Homo sapiens: one gene and its partner. The protein of the gene in region 2 interacts with the protein of the main gene of each other region in a pairwise test. Each region holds a gene or a part of one and is shown on either strand. Other genes may lie near its edges.

Evidence for each region. Proteins that work in one complex are often made in the same cells at the same time.
Region 1: the proteins of ADRA1A (region 2) and BMP1 interact in a two-hybrid assay, tested with the Homo sapiens proteins (one study listed by IntAct).

Annotation. Positions count from the first base shown.
Region 1 is NC_000008.11:22,175,371-22,182,394, forward strand, and holds part of BMP1 (bone morphogenetic protein 1 isoform 3 precursor), read left to right. Parts: intron 1-772; coding exon 773-943; intron 944-1,162; coding exon 1,163-1,280; intron 1,281-1,553; exon of another isoform or gene 1,554-1,590; coding exon 1,591-1,769; intron 1,770-2,481; coding exon 2,482-2,587; intron 2,588-4,334; coding exon 4,335-4,459; intron 4,460-4,997; coding exon 4,998-5,113; intron 5,114-7,024. UniProt on the Homo sapiens protein: Metalloprotease that plays key roles in regulating the formation of the extracellular matrix (ECM) via processing of various precursor proteins into mature functional enzymes or structural proteins.
Region 2 is NC_000008.11:26,864,275-26,871,896, forward strand, and holds the start of ADRA1A (alpha-1A adrenergic receptor), read right to left. Parts: upstream 3,005-7,622; 5' UTR 2,662-3,004; intron 1,382-2,661; 5' UTR 696-1,381; coding exon 1-695. UniProt on the Homo sapiens protein: This alpha-adrenergic receptor mediates its action by association with G proteins that activate a phosphatidylinositol-calcium second messenger system. Its effect is mediated by G(q) and G(11) proteins.

The DNA of each region.
Region 1 (7,024 bases), 4.7 Mb from region 2:
CACAATTCCTAGAAAATGAGTACACCTTTGTTCTCTTTTACGATTATTGTCAATTCTTGCTATTTATGGAAGTTATAGAATAACTTTATAGTTACTCTGTACAGTCACTGAAAACATTAGCAAATACTGACCCATTGCTCCTAGGGAAAATACAGGGTCAGGTTCCTTCAAGCCTCTGGTCACAACATTTTTGTCAACTGATCAGTGCATCACCTTGTTTTATGAGTGTTTCTTTTTAAAGACACCTTACTTAATATGGAGCTGATTCATTAACATTGAACTCATGACCAACAGCACTCTAACTCATGCCTCGAAGAAGCTTACCTAGCACACGTATGTTCTCTGTGAGGCATATCACAGCCTTCTTGCCCTTGGGAACACCAGAGAGCACTTCAGCATTATGCTCAGGGGCTGTTTTAAACAGCGAAACCCTCAACAAAGCGCACAAAAACACAAAAAACAGGGCACTTTAACTAGACCTCAAAAAGGACACTTGGTTACACAATGAGAGCCGAAAGCAGAAAGCGGAGCGTTGCCTTATTCCACCTCAGCTGGGAACATGCATGTTGGGTGACTGAAATTTTTCACTGCTCTGCAAATGTCCACAAATGACCGTGAAAGCCCTGAGAGTATTGATTTTGGGGACTACGAATAAATTTTAGCCAGTAGACAAATTTGCAAGCACAGAATCCATGAAAAATGAGGTTTGACTATGCTTTTGCTTTCCTCCTCTTTCTCTCCACTCACTAGTCACCATGACTTCCTCTCTCAGTTCCAGGAAACACTTCTACCCCCAGCTGCCAGAGCACCAACGGGCAGCCTCAGAGGGGAGCCTGTGGGAGATGGAGAGGTAGATCCCGTAGCCGGCGGGCGGCGACGTCCCGACCAGAGCGTGTGTGGCCCGATGGGGTCATCCCCTTTGTCATTGGGGGAAACTTCACTGGTGAGCGTGCTATTGTGGGTCCCAGAGTGTAACCAGCTTCCGGGCCTGGCCTTGTGGCAGCCCTGCCAGGCACGGAGGCGTGGGTGCCACCTGCAGCCCGAGTGCCCACACATTCCTTTCCAGGCAGTCTGCCCTCAGAATGGCTGTGACTCTTCAGTGGTGGGTAGGGGGTGGGACTGCCTGGACACCGTGGCAACCTGGCTTCCTTCCTCCTGGCAGGTAGCCAGAGGGCAGTCTTCCGGCAGGCCATGAGGCACTGGGAGAAGCACACCTGTGTCACCTTCCTGGAGCGCACTGACGAGGACAGCTATATTGTGTTCACCTATCGACCTTGCGGGTGAGCAGGAAGCCCTAGGCGCTGTACCTTCCGCCATTGCCCCAACCCAGGTTCTGCCCTGGGCCCTGCCACTGCCCCCAGCTGGGCACAGCCTTGGGTCCCTTTATCCCCTCCTGCTATGGGGCATCTACCCAGGAACTGCCCCCTGTGCGGCTGTGACCTCCAGCACACAGCCTGGGCACTCGGTGCTCAGGGCCCACCCCTCCCCTTCGCTCCCCTGCCGCCCCGCCCCCGGCAGCCTGGCCCCGCCCCTGAGTGGATGCACTCCCCCAGCTCGGGACCGCCCCCCTGAGCTGGCCCCGCCCTCCAGGTGCTGCTCCTACGTGGGTCGCCGCGGCGGGGGCCCCCAGGCCATCTCCATCGGCAAGAACTGTGACAAGTTCGGCATTGTGGTCCACGAGCTGGGCCACGTCGTCGGCTTCTGGCACGAACACACTCGGCCAGACCGGGACCGCCACGTTTCCATCGTTCGTGAGAACATCCAGCCAGGTAGGTACCTGCCCCTCGGTGCGGCCTTGGTGGGCGGCTCCCGCCCCAGCCCCCACCTCCAGGACCCCTGGGGGCAGTGGCAGCCGCTCCAGCCAGCCGTCATCGCCTGGGCCCGCAGCGCTGCCCACAGCCTGGGTTGAGCCAGCCCCTGCCCTTGAGGCATTTCCTCCTCCGTGTCAGATCAAGGACCCGCATCCATTGTGGAGCTCCTCTGGGAGGCTGGGCCAGGTCCTGGTCCTGGACAGCGGTAGCCCGGGCAGCCTCTAGGGTGGGGCATGGGCATAGTGGGCCGTCCTGGGGACTGCTCAGGCCTTTCTCCCCACCTTTGCCCACTATCTGCCCTCTGCCTGGTCTGCCCTCCGAGGGCTTTTCTCTCATTTTCTCGATGTCTCTGTCCCTCCCTTCCCGCCTCCTCCCTCTCTCCCAGGCGTTCTCCACTCTTCACTGCTCCTTCTCAGCTGTGGCTCTAGAAATGGTGCTTCCTTCCCATGTTCCCTTGAGTCCTCCATTCACCAGGCCCTCTGCTGGACAGGACTCTTCCTGAGACCCTCCCCATTCCCCAGGCTCCCCTTGGCTGCTCCCCGGACCCTCAGGTAGGGGGACTCTCTCAGATACAGGAAGGACTCCATTCCCTGCCCTGGAAAGTGAGCGTTGCATCCCAGGCAGACCCACCCCCTCCTCTCCCCCCACACCCTTTTCCTGATCTTGGCAGGGCAGGAGTATAACTTCCTGAAGATGGAGCCTCAGGAGGTGGAGTCCCTGGGGGAGACCTATGACTTCGACAGCATCATGCATTACGCTCGGAACACATTCTCCAGGTGGGAGACGGGATTGGGGCTGGGCCTCTGCTCGGGCAGCCCCACCCTGCCCTCTGTAGGCTATTCTCCTCCTGCCTCCCACTTCTGGGGCAGTGACCCAGGAAAAGAGTGGCCCTCTGGGGGGCTGTGGCCTCCAAGCAGAGGGTCCGTGGATGTTGCCTGCCCTCCTGTCCTCTTCCACGGGTGGGTCTGTGGCAGGGCCTTACCACCGTGTGCACCCAGGGCACCTGGCGGAGGAGGCTGAACCCAGCCACTCTGCAAGCCCAGCAGTGTGGGGTAGCCCCAAACTATCAGCCCAAAGGGTGCTGAGCTTTTATTTGTGGGCCATTTGTTTGTTTTTGTTTTTGTTTGAGACAGGATCTTGCTCTGTCACCTAGGCTGGAGTGCAGTGGCACAGTCATGGCTCACTGCAGCCTCAAACTCCTAGGCTCAAGGAATCGTCCCGTCTCAGCCTACTGAGTAGCTAGGATGACAGGCACACGCCACCGTGCCTTTTTTTTTAGAGATGGGGTCTCACTATATTGCCCAGGCTGGTCTCGAACTCCTGGGCTGAAGGGATCCTCCCACCTCGGCCTCCCAAAACGCTGAGATTACAGGCGCGAGCCACCAATGCCCAGCCATTCCTTTTTAATTAGTCTGCTTTTTTTGTAATTGGCCAGTTTGCACGAAGCCTGACCCCTGCCCTGGACTAGCCCCCATGCCCAGCTCCGAAGCACATCCTCCTTATCTGAGGCCCAGGTCCCCAGAAGCCACAACCAGAGCCCTCAAAGGTGGTGGCCCAGCCTCCCCTCCCCCAAGATTCTCCTTAGCAGTGTGGGAAATGGCACCTCCCTCCTCCTCAAACTCCTTCCTGGCCTGGCCATTCCCAGGCCTGGTGCTTTGCTCATCCTCTGTCTGTGTCCCAGACAGTGGCCCTGCCCCCTCTTCTCAGTGCTTCTACCCGATCTGCTCTTCCTGCCTGCAGACCTGCAGGAACAGAGACCAAGGAAGGGTGGTGAGGTCATTCTGCCCCCCACACCCACAGACCCGGCCTTACATTTCCCACCACATCCCACCCCACCCCCTGCTGCGATCCACCCAGCTGGGTGTGAGTCAGGGGCCCTGGGGAGGTGGAGGGCTGCCTGCCTCCCCTTCACTCTGCTCCTCCCAGTGCAAACACCCAGGATTCAGCAGGGAGGAATGGCCAGGACAGGAGACACTGATAGATTGGGAGCTGGTGGGGCTGTCCCCGGGGCTTGGTCTGGCTGCAGTGGAATCTGCCTTTGGCCTTGTTCCAGGTGCTTTCAGATGCAGCCTGTGCCAGCAGGGTGAGGAGCTGGCCTGGGGAGTCCTGGGAGAAGTTTAGTTAGGGCTGGAGCAGCATGAGGGGCTGCAGAAGCAGGGGCCCAGTGGGGCTGGAGAGAGATGACCCGCTAGGGGCCTGTAGCTTTCCTGGGGCTGGGAGTTGTGGCCAGCCTGAGCTGGGAGCACCAGTGGGTCCAAGGGCACCCTGGACCTGCATCCCTGACCTCCCAAAGTGTTCCTGGGGCTCCCCCGACTCCTGTGGTGTGGCTGCCACGGAGCAGGGTGGCTGCTGGTCAGTGGGTAGCATAATGACAGGGTGAGACGACTCCACCCGGCCCTGACCCTGCTGAGGAATGTCTGAGCTCCAGCAGGGTCGTGACTTGTGGGTACAGATGGGCATGCCACCCACTCCCTGCCCACTGTCCATGAGACGCTCACCCTTACTTTTCTCCCTCTTCTTCAGGGGCATCTTCCTGGATACCATTGTCCCCAAGTATGAGGTGAACGGGGTGAAACCTCCCATTGGCCAAAGGACACGGCTCAGCAAGGGGGACATTGCCCAAGCCCGCAAGCTTTACAAGTGCCCAGGTCAGGGCAGAGAAGGGATGGGTGAGGGCGTGGAGGGCAGGGCCTGAGGGAGGCAGAGGCCAGGTGCCTGGTGCCACCAAGAAGGCTTAGGCTGCAAGTCTTAGAGAATGGTGTGGCGGGGGAGGGGACCCCATAGGAGGGGCAGTGTCCAAGTGAAGGAGGCCGCTGGGGGTAGGCTCAGGTGGGTGGTCAGAAGCCGAGCCGCCACCTTCTGAGGGTCTGTAGGGGCGGAAGTGGGGAGAACAGCAATCCTAGGAGAGGGAGGTGGCACGGAGCCCCACCAAGGGAGCTTGACCTTAGCTCTGGAACCCATATTGCCTTCACAAACAGGGCAGCACTGGGCTGGGAGGTAGGATGGCGTGTGCTATATGTGAGGTAGGGGGGTGGATCTTATAGGGGCAGGACCATTGCAGACACCCTCCCACTCCTCAGGCATTCTCCCCTCCCCCAGAGGATGCCAAGGTTCAGGGGTGGGTGAGCCAGAAGATGGGGGGATTTGGCGCCTGCAGCCCTGCCCTGTCATTTCCTTTCCTCACAGCCTGTGGAGAGACCCTGCAAGACAGCACAGGCAACTTCTCCTCCCCTGAATACCCCAATGGCTACTCTGCTCACATGCACTGCGTGTGGCGCATCTCTGTCACACCCGGGGAGAAGGTACGTGTGGGCTCAGCCTCTGAGCCTCCCCCTCCCCTGCGGGTCCCCATACCTCAGGGACTTCTCCCACAGTGGGGGTCAATATGGGTGCCAGCGACCTACCTGGCTACCGTAAATGTATCAAGTCCAGAGCGCTGATGGAGCACGGCTGTAGGAAGGGGCTCCTGGCATTCACCGCCTTCCCTGGCATCTCCCAATAATTATAAATTAGTGTTAATTTGCACATAGCACTTGCTGTGTAGGTCTATTTTGATTATCTAGTTCTTCTTGGGTGATTTTCCTACATCACCTCTTTTAGTTTTTACGGCTACCTCCACCTTTATTTTACAGATGAGGAAACTGAGGCACAGGGTGGTTAAGTAACTTGCCCAAGGTCACACAGCTAACAAGGACTGAGGTGGGACTGGAGCTCTTCTCAGGTCTGGGTTCCCTTGGATGAACTGCTCAGCCTGACGCTCAGCTCTCATCCGTCTCATCAGGGCTTGGGCCAGGGGCTCCTGAAGGGCTCTTCCCGATTCTGACAGGCTCTAGTCCTGGGAACAATTAAGGAATGATGCAGGCGCCTCCAGCAGGATGCTGCCTGGTGGGTCTCTCCTTCTCACCCATCCTTCCCCTTGCTCAGGCCAGGACCCTCCAGTCTTTGCTCTGTGGGCCTGATTTTCTGTGCCTGGCTCTCCACTGGCACTCTATTTCTCCTCCCTCTACCTGTCACCTGCTATATCAGTTCTGATCCATAGAGAAAGCTCAGCTCCACCTTCTGTCTTACCTTGTGGGGAAGTACCCAGTTCTCATACTTGCTGCCACGTGGGGCTGGCTTCGGGCATACTACGGGATCGGGTCAGAGCTGTCTCCATCTTCACAGTCTAGCTCGGATGTGACCTCCTTCAGGAAGCCTTCCCTGCTCGTTACTAATTGGTGGCAAGTAGGGTGGACACCGAGTGTGGGGAGGGCCCCCGAGCCTGTCCGGTCAGGTTTCCCACTGCATGGTTGATTAGCCCTGTTTGAATACCTAAGGTGATGAGAGGCTCACTACTTTTCAGAATAATTCATTCTGTTCTCTAGCCAGCTCTTTTTTTTTTTTTTTCTTGAGACAGAATCTCACTTTTTCACCCAAGGTGGAGTGCAGTGGCGCGATCTCAGCTCACTGCAACCTCTGCCGCCCAGGGTCAAGCGATACTCCCACCTCAGCCTCTGGAGTAGCTGGGACTGCAGATGTGCGCTACCATGCCCGGCAATTTTTTTTCTATTTTTGGTCGAGACAGGGTTTCGCCATGTTGCACAGGCTGGTCTCGAACTCCTGAGTTCAAGTGATCCTCCTGGCTCAGGCTTCCAAAGTGCTGGGATTACAGGCGTGAGCCACCGCATCTGGCCTGTAGCCAGCTCTTAATGTTACAACGTCTCTTCTTCTCCCTTAAGCCCCCCAGTTGCTCCAGTACTTTCCTCAAGAGCAATGCAGGATAACTCACTCCCTCTTTCCCATGTCAGCCCTCCTAATGTGGGGAGGCTACTCCCATCACTTCTTAGATCCATTCCCGGTCTTTTCACACAGACTCTGGACCTCCGCACCAACCCCAGACCTTCTGTGTCCATATTTTTATTGCTCCCAAGCTACAAGACTTTATTTTCCTTGATTGGGGCATGGTTCTTAATGTCATAGTGCAGCGTTGAGCTGGATTCAATTCTATTATTGATTGCATTGTTCATTTCGACATCTCAAGATCATTTTGAATCAGAATTTCACCATCCATCAGGTAGCCCTCCTCTTACCTCTGCCATGAGCTCCTTTGATAAGCATGACTTCTAGGTCTTCGTCCTGGCCTTTGATCAAAACATAGAACAGCACACAAACCAAAGAAGAACCAAGATTTCCCTCCAAATTGGCATTAATCTTTTAATCTAGGCTTTGAGCAG
Region 2 (7,622 bases):
ACTTGCTCCGAGTCCGACTTGTCGGTCTTGAGGCCAGACTTGAGGCCCCGGCTCTCCCTCTTGGCCACCACGTAGACGCGGCAGTACATGACCAGGATGATGGCCAGAGGCAGGTAGAAGGAGCCCAGCGCTGAGAAGAGCACGTAGCCCGGCTCCTCGTTGATCTGGCAGATGGTCTCGTCCTCGGGGGCCGGCTGCCTCCAGCCGAACAGGGGTCCAATGGATATGACCAGGGAGAGTGCCCAGACGCAGAGCAGAGCCATGAGACCCCTCCTCTGGGTGACGATGGTTGGGTAGCGCAGCGGGTAGCTCACGCCGATGTAGCGGTCGATGGAGATGATGCAGAGGCCCATGATGGACGCGGTGCAGCACAGCACATCCACTGCCGCCCAGATGTTGCAGAAGACCCTGCCGAAGGCCCAGTAGCCTAGGACCTCGAAGATGGCGGAGAAGGGCAGCACCGTGGAGGTGAGCAGGAGGTCGGCCACCGCCAGGTTGACGATGTAGTAGTGCGTGACTGAGTGCAGGTGTCGGTGACAGGCTACGGAGAGGATCACTAGGATGTTACCCAGCACCCCGAAAAGAATGAGGCCCCCCAAGATCACCCCGAGCAGAATGGCCTTGGAAATGTTCACCGGTGCCGGCGGTTGGGTGCAGTTGGAGCTGTCGGAAGCATTTCCCGAGAGAAACACCATGGTCCCAGCCGGGGCCGGGCGAGGTCCGGCTGTCCAGGGCCACCTCCCGGGCTGGCGCGGAGGCGGGAGCGCGGGAGCCGGGAATCAAAAGGTCTCGGCTGGAGGGAGCCCTGCCAGGTGGGTTTGGCTGGGGGTGAGAGCGCGCGCGCGGGTGGGAAACAACCCTGGCCAGCCCTGGGAACCCTCAGAAGGCCACATGAAGGGGCAGGGCATTAAAGACATGGCCAGGGGCGCGCGGGGCTGCCGGGGACCCTCTCCACCTGCCGGGCTGGCCTAGCCCGGGACCCGGACTCCCTCCCTACCCGAAGCTGGGTGCGAAGATCCAGGAGACTCCTTGCAACATGCAATTCCAGAATTACGAGAATCTGCTTTTCCGCGCTGTCTTATTCGTCCTGGCTGGGGGAAGATTCAGCATTCTGCACATGATTCGGAATTCAAAACTCCAGCGCCAGTCTCTCCCTCAAACCAAAAGATCAGCCGTCGACGCTCAAAGGCAGGGACCGATGGTTGGGTAGCGCAGCGCTACAGGTTGGGCGCTGCTCCTGGCCCGCAGTTACCTACATTTTGAGCTGCCCCACCGAAGGCTCCTGCTCTCTCCAGCTTCTAGGAGCACAGGTCAGGGGACGTAGGTGTGGAATATGTGCTGAGACCCAGGAGGCTGCGGGGCATCGTTTGACCGCGTCCACCTGAAAGAGCGCAAAGAGAAAGGCGGCTTTGAGCTAGGCGCCCCAGGGAAAGAGGCTGTGCTGAGCTTGACGGGTTGGGGGACACCAGTTGGGAGCCGGGTTGGTTCTGCGGTCCAGAAGCTGCTTCGCCCGGCAGCGGTGGAGGCGACTTCGGAGCTCATCTCGCGCCCCCACCACTGGGAACCTGCCTAGCGCACTCTACTGAGTCACCTCTGCCCGAGTTCAGGATCCGAAGCGAAAAACAAACAAAAAAACAAATCCCCAAAACCCCAGGCTCCAGCGCTCGAAGTCTGGATTTCGAGCGCAGGTACCACGAAATTAAAATCCTCGAAGCCCCGGAGGGGCGACTGCGGCTGGCGAGTGTGTCGCACGGATCCTAGCCGGGGAATTCTGGAGGATGTACTCGGTTTCCGTTAGAACAGGTTGCCTCGCAGTCACCTGGAGGGGGCGGCCTGGGAGAGGGAACAGCTGCGACCCAGGGACCTCAGGGCCAGGACCACGAGCACGCTCACTCTCACGCCGGTGGAATTCGCACTCGGGTGTGCAGAGCGCACCGGTCTGTCCACCAGCCAAGCTGGCTTGAGAGCCAGGTCCCGAGCGAAGCCGGGAGGGACCCGAAGACAGAAAGCGACCCAGGTCTGTCCACGACGCCTTTCCAAGCCTCACTGTTGGCCACCCGAGGGGCTCCAGCTGCCAGCCGTAGCGGGACTGGCGGGGGACGGGGTGGGGAGGACGTCCCTCTGCAGAGGGAGCTTTGCAAGTGACAGTCACTGCGGATTTTGCAGGCGTAAACATTAAGCCGGCATGCCAGCGGGCAGGGGCCGCCTTCGATTTTCTGGGCTGGGGGCCACCATCTGCGTAAGAAACCTGGGTTTCCACAACTGCGAACCTACCGCAGGGACTCGGCAGGACAGCGCGGCGTGAGGAAGTGCCCACCTTGCCTTCTGGGGTTGGGCCCTGAGGTGGGACCTCGGGCAAAGACTCTTGTTAAAATCGCAAGTTGGAGACCTCACAGGTGGTATTAAAAACGTGCCACTGCAGAAACCCTTTTCCTCCTACCTCGAGGGTGATAAACACAGGGTTAAAAAGACACTTGTTCAGTAGAAGGCAACTTCGCAGAAGATGTAAGGGAATCGGGGGTGGGGTAGAGGGGCCGGTATAAAACCTGGTGGAAAAAGCGGGAGGCGCTGGGAAAAGTGGGGGTTCCGTCTCACCAGACGGCGGGGGAGGTCTGCCCTCACCCACTCGGCCCTGCGGGACGCCGGCCCCGGCGCACTCACCTGAAGCGCCGCTGCTGAGCCACCAGCTCGCGCGCGGGGGATGTGGACCCGGCTTCGGTCCCGGGAGCTGCCTGCCTGCTCTTCTCTGGAGGCGGAGAGGGGACCGTGTCTCCGAGGCACCAAATCCTTGTCCTTTTGCACCCGCTGACTCACCCCTCCACCACTGATGTCTTTAAGCTCCTGAACCGCTGTCACTTTACCTGCATTTTTTAAAAAGAGTCAAAATAAGAAAAGAAAAAAAAATGCAGATAACCGGTAACTCCACAATCACCCTTTTAATATTCAGCTCCCCGACACCAGAAAAGAATAGCAAGGAACTTTGCAGCTCTCGCTGACGTAACTCAGGCAGTAGCCCAGCTAGTACCGTAATCTCCTGCTGCTACCGTATTACTCTACGGCAACAGGCACAAGTGCGTATACAGCTGTAATGTTTTCCTCTGGCCTAGAGGGGGTTGGGTTCTAGCGTTTCTTTAAAAAGGTTTGTGTGTGTGTGTGTGTGTGTGTGCGCGCGCGCGCGCGCGTGTGTGTGTGTAGAGTCATTTGTAGTAAATAACTTCTTTAAATGAGCTTTTAAAAATAACGAAAAATTGACACCCTTGCTAGATATTGCTGTGTGTATGGTGTGTTCATAGGAATGTGCTATAAAGTAACTTTGAACAGCTTGATTTGATTAACATTTGGCCTAGGTTTTGTTAAGATCAAGAAGTATATTAAGAATATTGTAATTCTAAATATGCAAGTAAATTATAAGGTGTTTTAAATAGCAAGTAAAATCAGATAAAATATGACAAATCTGATTGTAATGAAATTATATTTTCAGGAAGATAAAGTGGACATATCTAAACCTTATTTAATATGATTCACTTCTAATTTCTTTAGACAGATGAATTTTAAGAGCATTATGGCCACAGAGTTTGGTATTTTTTAAATGCCACACAATCTTTTCCAGTTTTCTTGAGAAAATGGTATCCTTTCAGGAGTGTTACTCTCTTTAATTCATTAATAGCTGGAGTATGAAAACCTAGCACCACCAGTCTTATTACTTTTTTTCTGGTAAATTACATAATCTGTTTACCTTGTGATTGAATAAAGTCACATGTGTTTCAGAATATCGGGAACATAGAAAAATGTTTCCCACTCCAATTCCCACCTCCTAAGTCATCTTTCATCTTTATTGATGCAGACAAAGTGGAATGTTCTTATTTACTAGGTCTCCTTAAACCTAGGAACAAGGAGATAACTTTAAGCAGTGGCACTTAAATTCTCTCCTGTGAACAAAATCATATTAATATGATTACCTTTTCTAAGTGAGATAATGTTTGGGAGGCTCTTTTATAGCAATAAATCTCAAAATGCCTCAGAGGAATGCCCATGAGAGGGTCAGTAAATCCTATGTCATGGAAGACCTAATATATGTATTTATTTCTCTATTGTATACAAAGTCCTCCACCTCTGCCTCATACCTGTAGGGATAGAACTCACACCTAACACATTTGATTTGAATTTAATATATTTTTAAAACTGAATTTCGTGCCATAGGAGGAGCATCCTGGTTGAACAGACAGCTCCACTTCTCATTACTAAGTCACCTGCTCTCTCTGGGATTCAGTCCCCTTAGGAGGAAGCTTGACCTCAATTCCCTGCACTTCTAGTACTTTATCATCAAATATGTGTATAATGTCTGTGCTTCCGAAATCCCATCCATCAGAGGGATATACACTGTTTTGTTTTGTATTCATTAACCTGATGCTGTGAATGCAAATTCTTCATTAAGATGTGTTCCATGGTAGATAAGGGAAGCAGTGCTATCAGCAAGCAAAGCAACTGAAAATTGCTCAGCTCTGCAAGGTCGAAAATTGCAAAAGTCTTTGTAACTCCCAGTCCCCACTCTACAACAATTAAGAATACACATAATCCACCCCTGCACCCACCTCCAATAATTAACTAGTTAATACTAAGATAAGGAAGAGCAGCTCTTCATGCTGCTAGCAGGTAGGTCTTTCAAATCTGCTTCTCAGCCTGTGACCATCAATCCTTGCAAAACGACCTCTCAGAACCAATTTTTCAGTCACCTACCATTGATTCACAAACAGAAAACTATCCATCTGTTGGTTACTCTTTAAAGAATAGTTGACGTGGACATCCCAGAAAGTGTCTGAGTTGTACACATGGGTAGGTGGAGTGGAGAGGAGTATGCTCTGGGGTCATAAAGATGCTATTCTGACCCTCCTATGCGACCATGGCAAAGCCTTGGTTTCCTAATTTTTAAAGGGAGACAATGAACCCCCACAAGGTTGTTATTAGTGTTGAAAGAAATTACGTTTCTCAAAAACTCAGCTCATAATATTCACTAACTCTATTATTAATCTTATTAACTCCCTTTCTGCTCATTTTGTATGCTACTTTATAGTGAAATATATTTCTAACCCAGGTAGTCCATGAACACTGGTAAATTCAGCTGGAGAATGTGCTAAGTGTCTTGAGCACTACACTTGAGCTAAGTGGTTTAATCAGAATGACCCAACATGGTTAAGTTGCAAGAGCTGGCCCTGATCACTGGCTGCTTCTTTTCTTCTCACTTTCCCCCTTGTTCTTTGTCTTGAGGGGCCATGCAAATGTGTGTGAACACCTCAGCCCCTACAGCCAGAAAGCTGCCTTCTTGGCCTCAGGCCTTGGGGTACACACATTTGTGATGTTGTCTGCCCAGAGAGAATGGACCTGAAAGTGATTGTGTGGCCATCTGGGGCAAGGGATTCTGAGTCCCAGGGCATGGTCTAGAAAGGAGGGCACAGGCTCCAGGTGGGCATATCACATTAGTCCTATGGCCAAAAGGAGTCAGAGCTGGACTCTCTAAAGCCTGAAACCCTAGCCGGGGTCCCTCTTGCCTGGCTCTGAGGGTGATACTCTGAAGACTTCCGGTGTGACAGAAATTGAAGAATCCCCTGAAGGGGTGGTTGTGGAAAGACTCATAAAATGATATTGCTTGATGTAGGATTTGTGGAATCAGCAGGATTGAGATTTGTAGACAAAAGTGAGGAAGGTGAACCATCAGCAGCCGCATTTTAGAGTGGTGTGTCAGGGATGCTGGGGGAATGAGTCTGATTGGAGAAGAGCTGAGCAATGGACATAAACCCATGCATTGATTGGCAGGACTTTCTTAGTGACTAGTGAGGAACTCGGCAAGTGTGGTAGGCTTAGAGGTTTAAAAAAATAAAGAATCTGTCTATCATTCCCTTAGAAAACAATACACAATGGAATTAGGAGCTGTGTTCTGGAATTTATGATTGCAAATGACAGAGTAGAAGACTTAATGTTAGTATCTACCCCAAAGACTTGGCTTTTCAACTAATTCTCCTAAGGCTTAATAAGTTAAAGAGGCAAGAAAATGAAAAACAATTCTCAGAAAGGTATTGATGCAGTATCAAGTCACAGCTCTCCAAAGAAGCATTGTGTTCTAATCCTTTATCGAACTGAGAACACTGCACAGCCCACAGATACTGCTGAGGGATGTCTTTGATGAGATAGTAATTCTGTCTTTGCCATCATTTTTCCAAATCTTCATTGCCCTGAGAAAATAACATACTCCAAGTCTTGGGAGTCATACCACCCCATCCCTACACTGTGGGACTATCATGGTAGGAATATGAGGTCAAGTCAGCCTATAGCTGATCAGCAAATAATTCCTTTAAAACAATAAGACTTTGCTCTCGCATAGCAAATCTAAGCTGAGGCATATTAATCAAATTTTTTCAATATCTTTGTCAATATCATCTGGAAATGGAAGTAAAAGAAAGTCAATATGTGTACCAAGTGCAGACACATTTTTATCTCATCTCTTCACTTGCTGATGGGCTGTTATAGGCACTTTAAAATGCTTATTGACTTGTATTTAATTATAAAATTTATGCTCATAATAGCACATTTGGAAAAGTCAGACAGAAATGTATGAAAATAAAAATTATCTGTAATCCTGCCACTGGAGAAATAGCTATTGTTAAATATTTGTCATATTTTCTCATTTTTTGTTAATGTGTATAAATTATATACATGGAAAAATATATATACACATGTACATACCAGGAAATATTTTATGTACATGTATTTATTATGCATACATATATATTTCACATATTATACATTGTATACATTATATAAAAGAGTGTAATCATACTGTACCTATAATTATATATCTTACTTTTTCACTTATATTATATCATGAACTCATTCTATTATTACATTTATACCAAAACATGGTTTATAAGAGCTCCACAGTGATTCTATTATATGTATATGCTATTGTCTGAATGTTTGTGTTCTCCCCAAAATTCATATGTTGTAGCCTAAATTCCGAGGTGATGGTATTAAGAGGTGGGGTCTTTGTAAGATGATTAGGTCACGAGGGTTCCATCCTCAGGAATGGACTTAGTGCTGTTATAATAGAGGGAGCCTCTTTGCCCTTCTGCCATGTGAGAACACACAGAAGGCGACATCTATGAAGAATGGGCGCTTGCCTAGCATCAAATCTTCTGGCACCTTGATCTTGGACTTTGCAACTTCCCGAGCAATATATTTCTTTTGTTTATAAATTATCTAGTCTAAGGTATTTTGTTATAGCAGCCTGAACAGACTAAGACACTGTATGTCATGACAAATTAAATATTTAAATATTCAGGCTTTAAAAAAAATTCTGATCTATAACTTGAACTGTGGTAAATCCTCTTATTTATTTATTATTTTACTTTAAGTTCTGGGATACATGTGCAGAATGTGCAGGTTTGTTGCATAGGTGTACATGTGCCGTGGTGGTTTGCTGCACATATCAACCCCATCATCTAGGTTTTAAGCCCCACATGCATTAGGTATTTGTCCTAATGCTTTCCCTCCCCTTGCCCCCCATCCCCTGACAGGCCCCAGTGTGTGTTGTTCCCCTCCCTGTGTCCATGTATTCTCATTGTTCAACT